2 separate regions of the Homo sapiens genome follow, and region 1 is linked to region 2. Evidence: fine-mapped expression QTL. Tissue or cell type: whole blood. Region 2 holds a variant in brackets; the other region holds the start of a gene. All regions are shown on one strand. Distances are from middle to middle.

Region 1 (10,767 bases), 51 kb before region 2:
CAGCCTGGTGAAACCCCATCTCTACTAAAAAAGGAAACAAACAAACAAACAAAAATTAGCTGGGCGTGGTGGCTCAAGACTGTAATCCCAGCTATTCAGGAGGCCGAGACATGAGAATTGCTTAAACCCGGGAGGCAGAGGTTGCAGTGTGCTGAGATAGTGCCACTGCACTCCAACCAGGGGCACACAGTGAGACTCCTTCTCAAACAACAACAACAACAACAGCAACAGAACAACAACAACACAACTCAAGTCAATAATTTAGAGTAATAAAAGACTGGTAGTGGTCCAGGTGGCAAAAATAAATGCAAATCCTTGATAAAACTTACTTAGAAATAAATTTAACAAATGTTATGAAAGACCCCTGCCAATAAAAACTACAAAACATTGTTGAGAAAAATTAAAGATTGAAATAGATGAAGAAATATACCATGCTCATGGATGGGAAGACTCATATTGTAAAGATGTCAATTCTCCACAAATTGATTTATAGTTCAGTGCAATTCCAATAAAAAGCATAGCAGGGTTTTTGTAGATATTGACAAACTAGAACTAAAATTTACTTGGAACTATAAATATCTTAGCATAGGCAAAACAGTATTGAAGAAGAACGAAGCTGGAGAACTTGTTCTACCTGATTTTGAGACTTACCATAAAGTATAGTAATCAAGTCAGTGATGTTGGCATTAAAATAAACCGAAGACCAATGGGGAAAAAAGAGAGTCCATAAATAGATCCACAAATATACAAATGGTTTTTGACAGTCACCAATGCAGTTCATTGGGGAAATTTTCTTAACAAATCTTAATGAATTATCCTGGATCAACTGGATGTCAGTATAGAACAAACTGAACTTTGATTCACACCTCACGTCATACGTAAGATTTAATTCAAGATAGCTTAAAGACTTAGATGAAGAAGGTAAAACTATAAAATAACTAGAAGAAGGACATATAGGAGGAAATCTTTGTGATTGAGGGTGGGGCAGTGAAAATATTCTGCATGATACTCTCACTGTATATTCATCAAAACACATAGACAATAACAGTGAATACAAAGGTGAACTACTGACTTTGGGTGGTAATGATGTGACAGCGTAGGTTCATTGACTGTAACAAACGTACCTCTCTGGTAGGAGGCATTGACAGTGGGAGAGGCTGTGAGTGTGGGTGAAGTCAGGGAATACATGAGAACTATGTAATTTCACATCAATTTTGCTGTGAACCTAAAACTGCTCTAAAAAATGAAGTTTATAAAAAAAAGACAAAAAAGACAGATTACTTACAAAGGAGAAACCATTAGACTACCATCTAATTTCACATAAACAACAATGGAAGGCAGAGACAGTGAAATGATACGTTCAATTGTGGAGAGAAAACAATTATCAACCTAGAATGCTATGTTCAGTGAAAACATTGTTGAAAAATGAGGGTTAAATAAAAACATTTTCAGTCGAACAACAACTAAGATTATTTGCCACTGGTAGACTCTCACTAAAAGAAATTTTAAAATATAAACTTCAGGAATAATAACAGTGATTTGAAGTAGAAAGTCTGAGAGGTAAAAAGAAAAACGAAGATCAGAGAAAGTGGTTAAAAAGTGTTTGTACGTGTGAAAAAAAGCTTATCATCACTGGTGAGATACCACAATGAGATACCATCTCATGCCAGTTAGAATGGCGATCATTAAAAAGTCAGGAAACAACAGATGCTGGAGAGGATGTGGAGAAAAAGGAATGCTTTTACACTGTTGGTGGGAGTGTAAATTAGTTCAACCATTGTGGAAGACACAATGTGTGTGTGGCGATTCCTCAAGGATCTAGAATTAGAAATACCATTTGACCCAGCAATCCCATTATAGGGTATATACCCAAAGGATTATAAATCATTCTACTATAAAGACACATGCACCTGTATGTTTATTGTGGCACTGCTCACAATAGCAAAGACTTGGAACCAACCCAAATGCCCACCAATGATAGATTGGATAAAGAAAATGTGGCACATATACACCATGGAATACTATGCAGCCATAAAAAAGGATGAGTTCATGTCCTTTGCAGGGACATGGATGACACTGAAAACCATCATTCTCAGCAACTAACACAAGAACAGAAAACCAAACATCATATGTTCTCACTCATAAATGGGACCTGAACAATGAGAACACAGGGACACAGGGAGGGGAACATCACACACAGGGGCCTGTCGGGGGTGGGGAGCTAGGGGAGGGATAGCATTAGGAGAAATACCTAATGTAGATGATGGGTTGATGGATGCAGCAAACCACCATAGCACGTGTATACCTATGTAACAAACCTGCATGTTCTGCCCATGTACTCCAGAACTTAAAGTATAATTTAAAAAGAAAGAAAGAAAGAAAGAAATGTGACCTCCAATGTTGGAGGTGGGCCTAGCAGAAGGTGTATGAGTCATGGGGGTGGAAAAAAAAGTGTTCGTAAACATGTACACACTTATTTTCTCTTGATATCCTTGCCTCTTTGCAATGTGATTTTGCAGTTCCTTTTTATCAAAAAAAATGGAGTCTTTTTCCCCACCCTTTGAATTTGGGCTCAGCCCCAGTTCATGCCCAAACCAATGGGATATGGTAGAAGTGATGTTGTGCCAGTGGATGTTTTTTTGTTTTGTTTTGTTTTTGAGACAGGGTTTCACTCTTGTCACCCAGGCTGGAGTGCAGTGGTGTAATCATGGCTCACTGCAGCGTTGACTTTCTGGGCTCAAGCGATCCTCCAACCTCTCAGCTTCCTGAGTAGCTGAGACTACAGGTGTGAACCACTATGCCTGGCTAATTTTTGTATTTTTTGTAGATAAGTGGTTTTGCCATGTTAACCAGGCTGGCCTCAAACTCCTGGGCTCAAGCCATCGCCCCATCTTGGCCTCCCAAAGCGCTGGGATTACAGGCATGGGCCACCATGCCTGGCCGGTGCCAGTTCTAAACCTAGACTCAAGGCTCTTGCACGCTTTCATTCATTATCTTGGATAATGAATGTCATGTTATCAAGCCTAGGCTAGCCTGCTGGAGGATGAAAATCCACATGGAGGAGCTGATCTAGCTCATTACCCTCTTCCACCCCCTTCCACCTGACAACCGACTCATAAGTGAGCTCAGTGGAAATCAGCATAAATTGGCCTAAACCTGAAAAACTGTCCTACAGTCTCATGAAAGATGATATATGGTTATTATTCTAAGCCACTAAATTTTGAGGTGGTTTGTTTTTCAGTTAGGAGCACCAAGAATTAGCAATAGCTAATAATGGCAGAAGTCAATAATGTCTTGTAGGTTAGAAAATAAGATAGAAATAAAATATGCAACAATAAATAGGATGGACAAATGAGCAGAATAGAAGCATTCTAAGGTGAATAAAAATAGATTAATTTTTCTCATATAATAAGAAATAAGCATTATGGAGCTGGTGCAGTTATTCAAAGTGAATAAAAAATAGATTAATTTTTCTCATATAATAAGAAATAGGCATTATAGAGCTGGTGCAACTGTTCAGGAAATTTATCAAAAACCTAGACTCTCTCCATTTTTTCTCTCTACAGTCCTCAGTTTTGGCTATCGCCTTTATGTTTACAAAATGGCTGCTGTACCTCCAGGCATTGCAACTGTGTTCCAGGGAGAAAGAGAGAATATGATGAGTCTCTTCTTTTTTTAACTAGGAAGTATCTTTTGTACAGGCTCCGCCTTGTGGAAAGTAGATTTCTGTTTACATGTCACTGGCCAGAACTCTTGTCACATGGCCATACCTAGGTACAAGGAGCCTGGGAAATTGACATATATATTTTTTCTAGGTGATCTGCTTTCCCAAAGAAAAACAGGACTCCATTATAAAGCAAATGTAAGAATGGGTGTAGTTTAGATGACAAGCAGTCTCTGCTCTCTATTTTGGAGAAATCCTCTTACTTAAGGAACTAATCCAAAAGGAAAAGCAAACAATGTCCTTGGCATAAAGATTAAGAGACAACATTACACAGGGTACAAGGCACTGGAGTGAGACTCCTAGTCCTAGCTCTGCAGCTGACTTGCTGGGGAACTGATCCTCAGTTTCCTTCCCTTTAAATTAAGACATTGGAGTAAATAACATGTAAGCATTTTAAACAACAAGTAAGTCTGTAAAGACTGAAGGGAATTAACATTTATGACAGATTCCTTAATGTGCAATAGCTCATTTAGACCTCACAACAGTATCTCCCTTTACCCTGGGGGATGCTAAATCTCAAAGCAGTCAAATAGTGTTCCCAGACCCACATCTAGTGAGTGGCAGCCAGAATTTCAAGTCGGGTCTGTAGGCCTCCAAAGCCAGAGGCTTCTTTCTACTGCCCATCCAACCTTTCTCAAAAGGCAAATAAGGTCATGCATTTTTATTTACTGAATTTTAAGTAAAGCAGTGTCTTTTGAAGCGGGCCCAGTGCCACTTGCAGCAGAATCACCTGGGATGTCTATTACAAATGCAGATTCCTGAACCTTCTCCACATGAACTGAAGCAGACTTGCTAGGGCCGAGGGAGACCCAGGAATCTGTATTATTACAAGCTCTCCAGGTAATTGGAGAGACTTTACAATTTGGGAACCATGATTTTAAACTAATAATTTAGTGTTCCATTCTAGTGTAGTTTATTTATGGATCTGTGGCTCATGGAAATTTCCTCCTAGTATCAGGAAGATACAACTTAAAAATAGTCTGTTTTTCCTTCCTATTGTATCCACTGAATTCCACGGAAAATGTTAAGGAACTGGAGGTGTGATTAACACTGATTAATCTAGGCTCCGTACGTCAAAGGCACAGACTGACATGAACATACATGCTGATTAGAATCATACAGAGCTGGAAGGGGATGGGCAAAGAAATGGCATTAGCTAAATATTTACTATGTTCCAGACACTGTACCAGACACATTACGTCATTTAAGGGGCCCAAGACAAGTGATTCAATCCCTTTTATTTATAAACGGGGTAGGTACTATTATTATTTACATTTTAGAGATGAAGAAGCTAATGGCCAGAGAAAAACAGTCACTTTCTGAGATCATTCATTCATTCATACAATAAAAATCTCATTAGCTCTTATCTTATGAAAGACATTGCAAATAGAGCAGCAAAAAGGCAGTCTAGGGACCTCAGGTGGCACAAAGTCCACCAAATCTCCATTGAAGAAACTGGAACTGAGAGGGCAAATTGGGACTGGAGCCTGCCAGAAGCCATCTCTCTGGAATCCCTCAGCCTGAGCAAGAGGGGAGTTTGCTGCTGAGGCTGCTGGAGCTGCGGTGTAGAGCAAGTTGCAGGCCTCTGAGCCTGTTGGAGGTTCAGAAAGGTTAGCTGACTTGCTTAAGTAAGTGTCCTAGACAGGAGGGAGAAAGCGCGCGGGTCTCAGATCCCAGCTCCAATATCCACGCCTTTTCCCTTTTCATCTCCCGGAAGGAAGCCTTCACAGGTGGGGAAAATGCTCACCCAGTGACTCTAAAGTAGTGCACAAATTGGCATTAATCAGAACCATTCTGATTCCTGCTATCAAGGTTTATTTAATTCTAAGCTCAAATGACACAGAAAATAAAATTTCCTCCTTAAAAGGTTCTGCGGAAAAATATTCTCTGTTCTACGTAACAGCCTCCTTGGCTGTGTTTGTGTCTGAAGAAAGGACTAGTCTGACAGGAAGAATTACAAATCTGGAGCTCATTTTGGCGTCGCAGAGGGAAGGTGGGTGGAGCGTCTCGCAGTAAATTAGGAATTCAGAATGAAAACGTAGAGTTTATTTGGGTTTTTAGTGACACCTCAGGATTATTATACAGCAGTGTCAGACACAGCTCAAAGTAATGATGACTGCTCCCCCTCCGCCCCGCGGGAGCTGGGTGCTAAGAAGGGGGAACCCCTCCTTTGAGGGGTTGGGGTGGGGATCCTCCCTTTCCAACCTGGATCGGGAAGGGGTTTGAGAGGAGTGCGGCTTGGATCCCCATCCTGGATCTGTGCTGGAGGGAGGCGGGAGGCTATTTGGGGGTGTGTTTGGGCTCAGGATCTGGGTCTGACGCTGGGATCTGAGGACTTTCTGGGTTTGGAACTGGGTGGGGGAGCTGGGTTTGGGGTGACCGCTGGGAGCAGGAGGAAATAGGAGAGTGAGTCGCATGTGAAGGGCACTGAGGAGGGATCTTCGGGGGAATGCTGAAGTTGATGCGTGGACTTGGAGAGGGGAAGTTGAAGTGGATGCAGGGGCCTGGCGCTGCAGCGGATCTGGGTGGCATGTGCTGGGATTGCCAATGCGGAGCTGTGAATGGGGTCAGGGTGGGGCTGAGGCAGTACCAGATCTTCCGCGCCTAGAGGAGGTTAGAAGAAAAGAGCGTCGAACGGCCACAGCCTTTTTCCGAAAGAGACTCACACAGACACACCCATCGCTCTACCCGGCCCTCCGGGGCTAGCGGCTGAGCGGTGCTGGGGCTGGCAGACCCCGCCCCCACGCGGCCTCTCGGAGCCGGGAGCCGATCGGGCCGGGGCTGGGGTCTGGCGGCCCAGCCCCCGGGGAGCGTGGGGCGTGGCCAGAAACCGGCGCTCGCGGCTGCGGATTGGCTGCCTGGCGGGCCCGCAGGCGGGGCTCCCGGCTGGGTCCCGCTTGGCAGCTCGCGGCGGCGGGGAGGCGGGGCCGGCGGGAGCCCGGCAGCCAATGGACGCGCGTCCTCCGAGCAGTTACAAAGGGCCGGAGCGAGGCCGCCGCGGCGGCTAGGGAGGTGGGGCGAGGCGAGGTTTGCTGGGGTGAGGCAGCGGCGCGGCCGGGCCGGGCCGGGCCACAGGCGGTGGCGGCGGGACCATGGAGGCGGCGGTCGCTGCTCCGCGTCCCCGGCTGCTCCTCCTCGTGCTGGCGGCGGCGGCGGCGGCGGCGGCGGCGCTGCTCCCGGGGGCGACGGGTGAGCGGCGGCGCGGCGGGCGGGCGACTGCGGGGCGCGCGGGCCGGACCCGGCCTCTGGCTCGCTCCTGCTCTTTCTCAAACATGGCGCGGGGCCGGGGGCGCAGGTGGCGGCGCCGGGGCCCGGGCCGGGCTCTCGTGGCGCCGCGCGGCTCGGCGGCTGCCGGGCGAACCGCAAGCGGGGAGCGGAGGCGGGGCAGGGGCGTGTGTCCGGGCGCGGGCGGACGTGTCCGGCTGCCCGAGGCCGCCCCGCTCGGGACTCCCCGGGGAGGTGGAGTCGGGCGGAGTCGTCCGAGGTCCGGGGCTGCCCTCTGGGGTGTGAGTGGGCGAGGGCCAGGGGCGGAGAGTGCGAGGCCGGCGGGGACTGGCAGAGCCGTGGCTGCCCGCCGCCGCCCCCTGGGCACGGCGTGACCTTGTTCTGGGGACCCCCGCCCCAAGAGGGTCCGTGCCAGAGGCTGCCGAACCCGGGGCGGGGTTTGAGGTTGGGGTGGAAGGCGGCTCCCGGGCGGGGTGTGAGCTCCGAGCCTCTAGGGCTTCGTCCAGTGGGAGTCGGGGGCGACGTGTGGTGAGACCCCTGGGTCCGCAGGCCGCCCTGACTCCCGCCCGGCTCGACCCGAGCCGACCCTGCTGGAAGGGGCTGCTCCTCCAGCCAGGGGGGCTTTGTGTGAGAAGAAGGAAGCGCGGAGATGCGCGGAATGTTTCTTCTTTCGTGCGTCTGGGGAGTGTTGAAGTGAGTCCAGTAACCAGACGGCTACGGATTGTTTTCATAGTGGAAACTTGAACGTTTGCTCATTCTGCGGGTTTTGGAAATTTTGGGAACGACTGTGAATTGATTAAACGCTTTTTATTTCCTCGAAGGAACATCACTCACGTTGTTCCTTTTCTTGAGTGACAGTTAATAGTTTGATTCAGACATCTGTATAGCTGGTTTTCAAGGAAGACTGTTGGCTGGATTTTTCAAAATAGTAAATCAGGTTGGGGTAGGTGGTTGGTATCCACAAAGGGATGAGTGAAAAACTTCGTTAGCAGCTGAACTGAGACACTAGAAGCTAAAATACACAGCCTCAGTGTTAGCAACTAAAATGCAGTGAAAGTACATTTCTGTTTCTGAAACTGGACAAAAGATGTTGAAATTTTTTTAAAAAATCAAGACTGACGGTGACGATTATAATCAGTCCTAATAGCTACCGTCTATGTATTGTGCATTACTACGATGTAAATGCATACACTATTGTATAATTACATTATTTAATCACCACAAGTAAACTCCCAGGAGTAGTGGCATTTGCCCCACTTTACAGATGTGCAAAGTGGGGTACAGACACGTTAAGTACCCAATAACTTAAGTGCTAAAGCTAGGATTTTCACTCAGATCTCAGTTTCCCAAACCTGTATGTCATATATATATATAAATATGTATACATCATACTATCTGGCGTAGCCCATTTTTCTTCTTCAGTCGTCTGATGAGCAATTGGTCTTTATTATCCACTTTGGATTCTGTCCTCATGATTTGAGTATCAGATAGGCTTCATTCCGACTCTTAGCACATTGTTGAGTCCCTTCACGTGGGCCTGCATTAGAGGAAACAATGGATTTTTGACATTGGCCTAGGGAGGAAGGCAGGATAACTGTGTGGACATTTGGGAGAATCAGTATAGTTAGGCATGAAACACAGGTAACATTTCCACACCGCTATTAACTTGAATAACACAGTGCACTCTTTTCCACCAGAAGTAGCACAAGAAGCGTTCATGTATTCAAGTAACAGTAGTGGACTTAGTTGAAGACACAGAACATTGCTCAGTCCATGTCCTGGAGGAGTTTACAGTCTCCATGGTATGCACAAAATACAAAGCTGTCCAGGTGCTTATTACTCTAAGCCCAGACTGCCTCAGCTTGTCTGCCTCCCCTGTTGGTTATGATGATGCCTCAGTCCACCCTTAAAAAACATTCTGAAAAAGGTCAAATGCTTTTTATTTCCTCTGTAACTTGGCTTCCCTTTTAAAGACTTGCACCTTTTTATGTTCTGAGTATGTTTTAATGTTCTCTGCCCAACTTCTGTCTCCAACATAGGTTTCTCTAGGGAAATTGATTCCTTATCCCTAGTGCACAGTTTAGTACCACTATGTCTATATGTATATCCCATCTGAGAATGCTATTTGCTTCCTTTCTGCCATTTCATAACTTTTTTTCTTTGAAAACGTGCCCCCAATCCAACTCTTCTATGAATGCCTCTTGAATGTCTCCTCCTTTCTTGGTATGCAGCCTTCAGCTTAATCCTGCCTGTTATCCTCCAAATCTAGTTGCTTTCCCATGTTTTTCTCATCTAGGCTTTTCTATGGCTACTGCCAAACTAATCTTCCTCAGCCTTCCCCGTGAAGGTTTATAAGATTTCCCATTTGTATTCAGCACTTAGAACAACACTTAGCAGCTTATGATTGGGGCCATCTCTGAGTATCCTACCAGGGATCTCATTTCTCATTACTGCAGACCTTCGAGCAATTTCTCTTTCTCACTGACTCCTGACTGTTCAGCCTTTTCACTACACATTTAGTTTTGCCCCTTTTTTTGGGAGTGCGAGAAGTTCTCAGCCCTGACTTCCTGTGCTGGTTTAGTTCTTGAATTCTTTGTCTTCCAGAACTCTGCAACACTTAACAGTTTGTGTTGTCCATTTCTACTGCCTGTGCTGCTACTTAACTCTACTTGAATGCGTTATAGGTACCCAGAGGACAAGATTCATGCCATTTCTTTCTTTTGTGGCCTCAGAACTTAGCACTGTGTTTTATATTCTATTCCACATAAATGCTTGTTGATTTCTATTTGAGCATTCCTTTAATATTTATACTGTTTTATGTAAGTCCAGTTTATGCAATATTAACTTGTAATTCCGTATAAATAATCAGGAAAAGTTGTATGGCGTGTTGAAAGCAATTGGTTATTTGTCCTACCTTCACCAGCAGTTATGCAGAAAATGGGGCAATACCTACTTTTGCCTAATTCATGAGATTGTGAAGATCACATGAGAAAGTGGTATTTGAGTTTGAGGTTGCTATTCTGTGTTGTTGCTAAAGAGCAGGACTGATGTTCAATAAGCAGTTCCCACTGGGCCATGTGTGTTTTGGTTAAACATCCTTTCTGATTGGTTGGTACCCTTGTAGTGCCAGTTGTTAAATATTTTTAATATCATTTCTATAGGGAGGCATTAGTATTCAAAAAGGGAAATGATTAGTGTAAGCTGGAATGATTGGGGGAGGCTTCTTGGACACTTTAGGACTTACACTGACTTTGAAGGGTGGGTAGAATTCAGAGGGGGATTTGATGAGTGTGAAAGTTCTTTTGAAGTTGTGTCCCCAACTGTCCTGGGGCCTACTCCAAGGGAGGAAACAAGGCTTTTACTGACTGACTGGCAAGTTACTCTTCAGAGTTAGGTTCCTTATTCTGTACTGTGGAATTTGGATGTATTAACCTCTATCATTTTTTCCCCAATCCTAAAAGCTATAGTACATAGCTGGAAACAAAACATAAAAGTAATCAAAGTGGAATGAGTGAGGGAGAATAACATTATGGGATGCCCAGTAGGACTAGGCATTCAAATGGTGGAAGTCCTAAGTATATTATCACTTCAATTTACAGATGAAAAAACGACTCAGGTGAATTTCTTAGGGTGGCACAGGGGCAGAACAGAGACAGGAACTTTGATTTTCTGATTCCATATCTTGTGCCCTATATGGTGCTTTAAAATGTGAAGGACTTGGAGGTGGGAGTGGGACAGGGTTGGGATAGGTGGTTGGCATCCACGAAGGGATGAGTGACTTCCTTAAGTGAAGTAGGCCTTGAACTTCACAGAATTTA
Region 2 (10,463 bases):
AGGAAACAGCCATGTGGGTCCTTTCTGTGCACTATGAACGCTTCTTTCCCAGGACAGAAAATGTGTAGTCTACCTTTATTTTTTATTAACAAAACTTGTTTTTTAAAAAGATGATTGCTGGTCTTAACTTTAGGTAACTCTGCTGTGCTGGAGATCATCTTTAAGGGCAAAGGAGTTGGATTGCTGAATTACAATGAAACATGTCTTATTACTAAAGAAAGTGATTTACTCCTGGTTAGTACATTCTCAGAGGATTCTGAACCACTAGAGTTTCCTTGATTCAGACTTTGAATGTACTGTTCTATAGTTTTTCAGGATCTTAAAACTAACACTTATAAAACTCTTATCTTGAGTCTAAAAATGACCTCATATAGTAGTGAGGAACATAATTCATGCAATTGTATTTTGTATACTATTATTGTTCTTTCACTTATTCAGAACATTACATGCCTTCAAAATGGGATTGTACTATACCAGTAAGTGCCACTTCTGTGTCTTTCTAATGGAAATGAGTAGAATTGCTGAAAGTCTCTATGTTAAAACCTATAGTGTTTGAATTCAAAAAGCTTATTTATCTGGGTAACCCAAACTTTTTCTGTTTTGTTTTTGGAAGGGTTTTTGTGGTATGTCATTTGGTATTCTATTCTGAAAATGCCTTTCTCCTACCAAAATGTGCTTAAGCCACTAAAGAAATGAAGTGGCATTAATTAGTAAATTATTAGCATGGTCATGTTTGAATATTCTCACATCAAGCTTTTGCATTTTAATTGTGTTGTCTAAGTATACTTTTAAAAAATCAAGTGGCACTCTAGATGCTTATAGTACTTTAATATTTGTAGCATACAGACTAATTTTTCTAAAAGGGAAAGTCTGTCTAGCTGCTTGTGAAAAGTTATGTGGTATTCTGTAAGCCATTTTTTTCTTTATCTGTTCAAAGACTTATTTTTTAAGACATGAATTACATTTAAAATTAGAATATGGTTAATATTAAATAATAGGCCTTTTTCTAGGAAGGCGAAGGTAGTTAATAATTTGAATAGATAACAGATGTGCAAGAAAGTCACATTTGTTATGTATGTAGGAGTAAACGTTCGGTGGATCCTCTGTCTTTGTAACTGAGGTTAGAGCTAGTGTGGTTTTGAGGTCTCACTACACTTTGAGGAAGGCAGCTTTTAATTCAGTGTTTCCTTATGTGTGCGTACATTGCAACTGCTTACATGTAATTTATGTAATGCATTCAGTGCACCCTTGTTACTTGGGAGAGGTGGTAGCTAAAGAACATTCTGAGTATAGGTTTTTCTCCATTTACAGATGTCTTTGGTCAAATATTGAAAGCAAACTTGTCATGGTCTTCTTACATTAAGTTGAAACTAGCTTATAATAACTGGTTTTTACTTCCAATGCTATGAAGTCTCTGCAGGGCTTTTACAGTTTTCGAAGTCCTTTTATCACTGTGATCTTATTCTGAGGGGAGAAAAAACTATCATAGCTCTGAGGCAAGACTTCGACTTTATAGTGCTATCAGTTCCCCGATACAGGGTCAGAGTAACCCATACAGTATTTTGGTCAGGAAGAGAAAGTGGCCATTTACACTGAATGAGTTGCATTCTGATAATGTCTTATCTCTTATACGTAGAATAAATTTGAAAGACTATTTGATCTTAAAACCAAAGTAATTTTAGAATGAGTGACATATTACATAGGAATTTAGTGTCAATTTCATGTGTTTAAAAACATCATGGGAAAAATGCTTAGAGGTTACTATTTTGACTACAAAGTTGAGTTTTTTTCTGTAGTTACCATAATTTCATTGAAGCAAATGAATGAGTTTGAGAGGTTTGTTTTTATAGTTGTGTTGTATTACTTGTTTAATAATAATCTCTAATTCTGTGATCAGGTACTTTTTTTGTGGGGGTTTTTTTTTTGTTTTTTTTTTTTTGTTGTTGTTTTTGGGCCATTTCTAAGCCTACCAGATCTGCTTTATGAAATCCAGGGGACCAATGCATTTTATCACTAAAACTATTTTTATATAATTTTAAGAATATACCAAAAGTTGTCTGATTTAAAGTTGTAATACATGATTTCTCACTTTCATGTAAGGTTATCCACTTTTGCTGAAGATATTTTTTATTGAATCAAAGATTGAGTTACAATTATACTTTTCTTACCTAAGTGGATAAAATGTACTTTTGATGAATCAGGGAATTTTTTTAAAGTTGGAGTTTAGTTCTAAATTGACTTTACGTATTACTGCAGTTAATTCCTTTTTTGGCTAGGGATGGTTTGATAAACCACAATTGGCTGATATTGAAAATGAAAGAAACTTAAAAGGTGGGATGGATCATGATTACTGTCGATAACTGCAGATAAATTTGATTAGAGTAATAATTTTGTCATTTAAAAACACAGTTGTTTATACTGCCCATCCTAGGATGCTCACCTTCCAAGATTCAACGTGGCTAAAACATCTTCTGGTAAATTGTGCGTCCATATTCATTTTGTCAGTAGCCAGGAGAAATGGGGATGGGGGAAATACGACTTAGTGAGGCATAGACATCCCTGGTCCATCCTTTCTGTCTCCAGCTGTTTCTTGGAACCTGCTCTCCTGCTTGCTGGTCCCTGACGCAGAGACCGTTGCCTCCCCCACAGCCGTTTGACTGAAGGCTGCTCTGGAGACCTAGAGTAAAACGGCTGATGGAAGTTGTGGGACCCACTTCCATTTCCTTCAGTCATTAGAGGTGGAAGGGAGGGGTCTCCAAGTTTGGAGATTGAGCAGATGAGGCTTGGGATGCCCCTGCTTTGACTTCAGCCATGGATGAGGAGTGGGATGGCAGCAAGGTGGCTCCTGTGGCAGTGGAGTTGTGCCAGAAACAGTGGCCAGTTGTATCGCCTATAAGACAGGGTAAGGTCTGAAGAGCTGAGCCTGTAATTCTGCTGTAATAATGATAGTGCTCAAGAAGTGCCTTGAGTTGGTGTACAGTGCCATGGCCATCAAGAATCCCAGATTTCAGGTTTTATTACAAAATGTAAGTGGTCACTTGGCGATTTTGTAGTACATGCATGAGTTACCTTTTTTCTCTATGTCTGAGAACTGTCAGATTAAAACAAGATGGCAAAGAGATCGTTAGAGTGCACAACAAAATCACTATCCCATTAGACACATCATCAAAAGCTTATTTTTATTCTTGCACTGGAAGAATCGTAAGTCAACTGTTTCTTGACCATGGCAGTGTTCTGGCTCCAAATGGTAGTGATTCCAAATAATGGTTCTGTTAACACTTTGGCAGAAAATGCCAGCTCAGATATTTTGAGATACTAAGGATTATCTTTGGACATGTACTGCAGCTTCTTGTCTCTGTTTTGGATTACTGGAATACCCATGGGCCCTCTCAAGAGTGCTGGACTTCTAGGACATTAAGATGATTGTCAGTACATTAAACTTTTCAATCCCATTATGCAATCTTGTTTGTAAATGTAAACTTCTAAAAATATGGTTAATAACATTCAACCTGTTTATTACAACTTAAAAGGAACTTCAGTGAATTTGTTTTTATTTTTTAACAAGATTTGTGAACTGAATATCATGAACCATGTTTTGATACCCCTTTTTCACGTTGTGCCAACGGAATAGGGTGTTTGATATTTCTTCATATGTTAAGGAGATGCTTCAAAATGTCAATTGCTTTAAACTTAAATTACCTCTCAAGAGACCAAGGTACATTTACCTCATTGTGTATATAATGTTTAATATTTGTCAGAGCATTCTCCAGGTTTGCAGTTTTATTTCTATAAAGTATGGGTATTATGTTGCTCAGTTACTCAAATGGTACTGTATTGTTTATATTTGTACCCCAAATAACATCGTCTGTACTTTCTGTTTTCTGTATTGTATTTGTGCAGGATTCTTTAGGCTTTATCAGTGTAATCTCTGCCTTTTAAGATATGTACAGAAAATGTCCATATAAATTTCCATTGAAGTCGAATGATACTGAGAAGCCTGTAAAGAGGAGAAAAAAACATAAGCTGTGTTTCCCCATAAGTTTTTTTAAATTGTATATTGTATTTGTAGTAATATTCCAAAAGAATGTAAATAGGAAATAGAAGAGTGATGCTTATGTTAAGTCCTAACACTA[C/T]AGTAGAAGAATGGAAGCAGTGCAAATAAATTACATTTTTCCCAAGTGCCAGTGGCATATTTTAAAATAAAGTGTATACGTTGGAATGAGTCATGCCATATGTAGTTGCTGTAGATGGCAACTAGAACCTTTGAGTTACAAGAGTCTTTAGAAGTTTTCTAACCCTGCCTAGTGCAAGTTACAATATTATAGCGTGTTCGGGGAGTGCCCTCCTGTCTGCAGGTGTGTCTCTGTGCCTGGGGGCTTTTCTCCACATGCTTAGGGGTGTGGGTCTTCCATTGGGGCATGATGGACCTGTCTACAGGTGATCTCTGTTGCCTTTGGGTCAGCACATTTGTTAGTCTCCTGGGGGTGAAAACTTGGCTTACAAGAGAACTGGAAAAATGATGAGATGTGGTCCCCAAACCCTTGATTGACTCTGGGGAGGGGCTTTGTGAATAGGATTGCTCTCACATTAAAGATAGTTACTTCAATTTGAAGGCTGGATTTAGGGATTTTTTTTTTTCCTTATAACAAAGACATCACCAGGATATGAAGCTTTTGTTGAAAGTTGGAAAAAAAGTGAAATTAAAGACATTCCCAGACAAATACTAAGACAATTTGTTGCCTATGGACGTCTGCCTTACAAGAAATACTAAATCCTTCACACAGAAAATAAATGACACCAGATGGTAACCTGAATCCACAGGATGAAATGAAGAGCACCAGAAATGGTGGATATATGTACAACTAGCAAAGACTGTATGATTGTATAGCTGCCATAAATTACTACAAATGCCCTGGCTTAAAGCAACACCTATTTATGATCTCAGAATTCCATAATTCAGAAGTCTAGGCATAGCTCAGATGGTTCTCTGCTCCATATTTTAAAAGGTCAAAATGAAGGCATTGGCTGGGCAACATTCTTTTCTGGAGGCTCGGATGAATAGGCTTCCAAGCTCATTGAGGTTGTTGGCAGAATTCAGCTCCATATGGTTGTAAGACAGGTTGGCCAGGGGTGGTTGTCAGTTTCTAGAAGCCACTCAAATTCTTTGGCTCGTGGTTCCCTCCTCCATCATCAAAACCAGCAGCAATGGGTTGAATCATCCTTGCACTTTTCTCGGATCTCCCCTTCTGCCTCATCTCTCCACTGTCTCTTCCACTGCATCTCTCTAATGCTTCTGCTTCCCTCTTCTGCTTTTAAGGGGCCATGTGATTACTCAGGGGGCCATCTGGATAATCCAGGATAATTACCCTATTTAGTAACCTCAGTTTTACCTGCAAAGTGCATTCACTGCAGTACCAAGATTAGTATTTGATTAAATAACTAGAGAATGGGAATCTTGGGGAAATAATTTGCCTACCAAAATAAATGTAAGTTATCTTTCAGTAGCATAAGACTATATAGTAATTACATCACCATACTGTTGGGTTTACAATATAGGTGCAGTGTATATTAATAACAAAGGAGTGGGTAGGAAATGGAACTCTATTGGGACAAAGATGTATCTTATTAGAATTAATTAGTCCTAATTTGAAGATGATTGTAATAAATTGAAATGCATGCTGTAGAGCCTGGAGTAACCACTGAAGCATCAATTTAAAAATAAATTAAAAAAAACAAAATGGTACACCAAGAAATATTTAACACAAAAGGCAGAAAGAAAGAAGCAAAATGATAGACATTTGGAAAACAAATAGCAAAATGGCAGCCATAAGTAATCATGCCAATAATTTCATTAAATGTGAATGGACTAAATAGTTAAAAGGTAGAGATGGTCAGGATGGATTTAAAAAGAAAAAACTATATGGTGTTCACAGAGGCACACTGTAGATTCAAAGACCAATAGCTGTAAAGTGAAAGTATGGAAAAATATAACATGCAAACAGTAATCGTAAGAGAGCTGGAATGTCTATATCAGTACAGTGGGCTTTAAGACAAATATTACTGGAAATATAGGATATTTTAAAAAGCCAATATATCAGATATAACAGTTAACATATGTATATGCACCTAACAGGACCCCAAAATAACGAGAAAAATGATAGAATTGAGAGGAGAAATGGACAATTTAATAATATTTGGAGATTTTGACACCTACAATAATTGATAGAATGACTCAATTGAGAATCACAGGCATACAAAAGAATGCTGTCAGCCAAATTGTCCAAACATTTACCACCACCCACCACGAACAGAATGCACACTCTTTGCTAGTGCACATGGAACATTCTCCAGGGGAAACCACATGCTATTTCATAAAAGAAGTCTCAGTGAATTAAAAGGGATGAAATAGTAGGAAGTATGTTCTCCAACCATGTTGAAATTAGAAGTCAACAGAAAATTGCAAATCCCAAAATATTCGGAAATTGAATCACACATTTCTAAAAAACCCATGTATTGAAGAAGTCACAAAGGAAGTTAGAAAATTTTAAACAAATGAAAAAGTACAGCATGTCAAAATTTATAGTGTACAGCTAATGCACTGTTTAAAGGGAAATTTACACTTTTAAATACCTATACTTTAGAAGTATTAAAGCCAGTGGGGATAGCTGCAAAAATACTTAAAACACAATATTAGGAAACTGAATCCAACAACAGATAAAAGGATTTATACACCAGGACCAAATGGGCCATATCCTAGGACTGTAAGCTTCATTTAACATCAAAAAAATCAATGTATTATACCATACTAATAGAAGAAACAATAAAACCCATATTATTATAATAACTAAATAGCCAAAGGAAAGAATATTTGACAGAATTCAGCACCCATTCGTGATGAAAACTCAGCAAACTAGAAATAGAAGGCAACTTCCTCAACCTAGTGAAGGGCATCGATAAAAAACTCACAGCCAACATACTTGATGGTGAAAGAATACTTTTCTCCTTAAATCAGAAACAAGTCGAGAACATCCTTTCATCATTTCTATTCAATGTTGTCATGGAGGTTCTGTCCAGTCCCTGTTCCCTCTCCCTACAAAAAGACTAGAAAGACATTAGGTTGGGGAAAAAAGTAAAACTGTCTTTATTAAGAAATATTACCTGTCAGATTCTAAAGAATCCACCGGAAAAAATTTTTTTTTTGAAGCTACAAGACCTAATTCAGCAAGCAAGGTTGTAGGATACACAATCAATATTAAAAATTGACATTATATTAGCAATGAACGATACCTTCAAAAGTAAACTCAGAATAGCGTCAAAAAGAATATAATAATACATTTATTTAATTGAAAAAATATTGCCGAGAGAAATCAAAGGATCTAAATGAGAACTTCCATGCTCATGGATTAGAGAATTCAACAGTGTTATGATGGCAATTCTCCCCAAATTGTTCTATAGATTCAACTCAATCCCTAGCGATATTCCAGAAAGGTTTTTCTTTAAATTCACAAGCTGATCCTAAAACTTAACATGGAAATGCAAAATGTCTAAAAGATCCTAAATGATTTTGAAATGCACAAAATTGGAGGAATTGCCTTACCCAGTTTCAAAACTTACTGTAAAGCAACAATAATCAAGACTGTTTATTGACACAAGGATAGTCAGTCATATACAGCAACAGGACAGAATTAAGAGTCCAGAAATAAGCCCTCACAGACGACCAACGGACTTTCAAGATATGTGCAAAGATAATTCAACAGGAGAAAAGACAGTCATTTCAATAAATGGTGCTGAGACAATTGGATATCTGTATTTTAAAAGGAAGGAAAAAAGGAAGAAAGTTAATTAGACCCTCAGCTCATTATGCACCTAAAGGTAAGAGCTAAAGCTATACAACTTCTAGAAGAAAACAGGAGAAAATCTTTGTGATGTTAGGTTAGGCAAAGATTTTAATAGGACTTCAAAAGCAAAATTTATTAAAAACCAGTTGATAAATTGGACTTCACCACAATTAAAATATTTGGGGCTTTAAAAAACAAGAGAATGAAAAGATGAGCCAAAGACTGGCATAAAGTATTTGCAAATCATACATCTGATAAGAGATTTGTATTCAGAATATATAAAGAACTCTTACAATTCAATAAGAATACAAATGGCCCAATTAAAAATTGGTGAACAAATTCATTGCTCAGAGATTGGGTATGGTAGAGTTAATTCTAAATTCTGTATTTGGGTATTAATGTTTAAATGGTAATTCGGCAACAGTTGATAAAGTGAAGCTCTAAATACCATGAATTATGTGTAGGACTGTGACAAAAAAAGTAAAAATAAAAACTGGTCAAAAGATTTGACATTTTCCCAAGAAGATATATGAATGGCTAATAAACATAATTCTTTATAAAGACTAGATGAAATTAAAACCACAATGAGAAACCACTCCTCACACACTCAAATGATTATAGTTTTTAAAAAGACAGATAGCCAAGTGTCAATAAAGATGAGAAAAAGATGAATCTCACACATTGCTGGAATGTAAACAGTCCCTTTGGAAAACAGATTGCAGTATCTTAAGAGGTTAAATAGAAACCTATTATGTAACCCAGTAATATCATTTCTAGGTATCAGTAGAGGTGCCAGATAAAATACAGGAGGCTCAGTTAAATTTGTGTGTCAGATAAAAACAATTTTTTAGTATAAGTTTGTCCCACATATTGCATGGAACATGTTTATACTAAAAAAAAGTATTGTTTATCTGACATTTAAATTTAACTCGGCTTCCTGTATTTTAACTTGCTAAATCTGGCAACTCTAATCCAAGAAAAATTAAAACATATGTCCACACAAAGACCTGTAGGTGAATATTCACAGCAGCATAATTCCTAATAGTCAAAAATGGAAACAAGCTAAATGTCCATCATCTGGTGAATTGATATTTAAGAGGTAAGGTATTTATACCATGGTTTATAAGACTGCTTGATCCTTGTTATAATGTGGATGACCTCAAAACCCTCATGCTAAGTGAAGGAAGTGGGATGAAAAGGTTGCAGAAAGGCACAAGGGAGCTTTTTCGGATGATGGGAATTGAGGCAGGAGAATAGGGTCTGGAGGCAGGGAACCTAAGGCTCTTTCACCCTGACTTCCTAGAACTAAATTGAAAGGAAAACCCTAACTTTCCACGCCTAAGTAAAAAAAGGACCAGAGGCTGCAGATGGGAAATCTGTCTGCAACAAATCAGACTGAGTACCAGTGGAGTCTTCGTTTGCAACTTTGTGACTTAGCTCCAGCCTCTGAATGGTTGCCGTCCACAATCAACCAGACTGATTGCAGGCTTAGTCAGTCTTCATTTGCACAGAAGTATAACTTTGTAACTTCACCGTAGCCTCTGATTGGTTGCCTTTACCAATCAGATGTTTGCACAGGAGTGTGACCTTTGTAACTTCAGCCTCTGGTTGGCTGCTTTCTGCAACCAATCAGACTGATTGAGGGCTACCACTTCATTTACATGAAGTATGCATGAAGTGGCCAATGGGAAACTTCTGGGGGGTATTTGGACCAAAGAAGATTCTGTATTGGGGGCTCTTGAGTAGCTGCTCAGGCTGCTCCCACACTGTGGAGTGTACTTTTGTTTTCAATACATCCCTGCTTTCCTTCTTTTGTTGCTTCATTCTTTCTTTGCTTTGCTGGGCGTTTTGTTCAACTCTGTTCAAAACGCCAGGAATCTGGACAACTTGCAGTTACGACCTTCTACTGGTGACAGAATGTTTCAAAGCTTGATTTTGGTGATGGATTCAGAACTCCGTAAATTTACTAAACATTGTGCACATGAAATGGGGAAATTTTATGGTGTGTAAACTATATCTCAATACGTCTGTTAAAGGAAAAAAAAGTAAAACTCGCCTTTGCCAGTTTTTGTTGTTGTTGTTTGTTTTTTGTTTTTTCTTTAAACAGGGACTCTCTGTCACCCAGGCTGGAGAGCAGTGGTGCGATCACAGCTCCGGGCAACCTCGACTTTCCCGGGTTCAAGTGATTCTCGCCCATCAGCATCTCGAGTAGCTGGGACTACAGGCACCAGCCAGCACCCCAGGCTAATTTTTGTATTTTTTAGTAGATACGGGGTTTCAGCGTGTAGCCCAGGCTAGTCTCGAACTCCTGAGCTCAGGTGATCCGTCCGCGTCAGCCTCCCAAAGTGCTGGGATTACAGGCGTGAGCCACTGCACCGGGTCTCACCTTACCATTCTTGCCACCCACCATACTTCCTTCATCTGTCCGCCATGCTGCATGTCCCGACGCACCCTGCTTCCTGCCTTTCTGCTAGGCTCCGCCCTTCGCTGGAACTGCATTTTTCCCTCTCCTCTGCCTTGCTAACTTGAATCAACCCCAAGGCTCAGGTCGGAAGGCATTTCCTCCACTATTGTTGCGCATCCTGCCTGCTGGCAAATCATTGATCCCCTGCTGCATTTCCAAAT

Evidence for each region. PIP is the estimated chance that this variant, and not a neighbour inherited with it, causes the effect.
Region 1: it holds the start of TGFBR1, and the variant in region 2 is fine-mapped to the expression of TGFBR1 in whole blood (TOPMed, PIP above 0.99). The same link has a PIP of 0.9 or more in T cells, blood mononuclear cells and monocytes.

Annotation. Positions count from the first base shown.
Region 1 is chr9:99,098,390-99,109,156 of GRCh38, forward strand. TGFBR1 (transforming growth factor beta receptor 1) reads left to right here and starts at 6,724. Exons shown (of 9, transcript NM_004612.4): 1 at 6,724-6,913. The coding sequence starts at 6,817. RefSeq lists silencers at 6,252-6,851, 6,942-7,451.
Region 2 is chr9:99,149,472-99,159,934 of GRCh38, forward strand. TGFBR1 (transforming growth factor beta receptor 1) reads left to right here. Exons shown (of 9, transcript NM_004612.4): 9 at 1-4,721. Among named protein-coding and RNA genes, the nearest start is that of TGFBR1, 50 kb to the left of the region's middle. The variant C/T (reference allele first, on the strand shown) is at 4,134.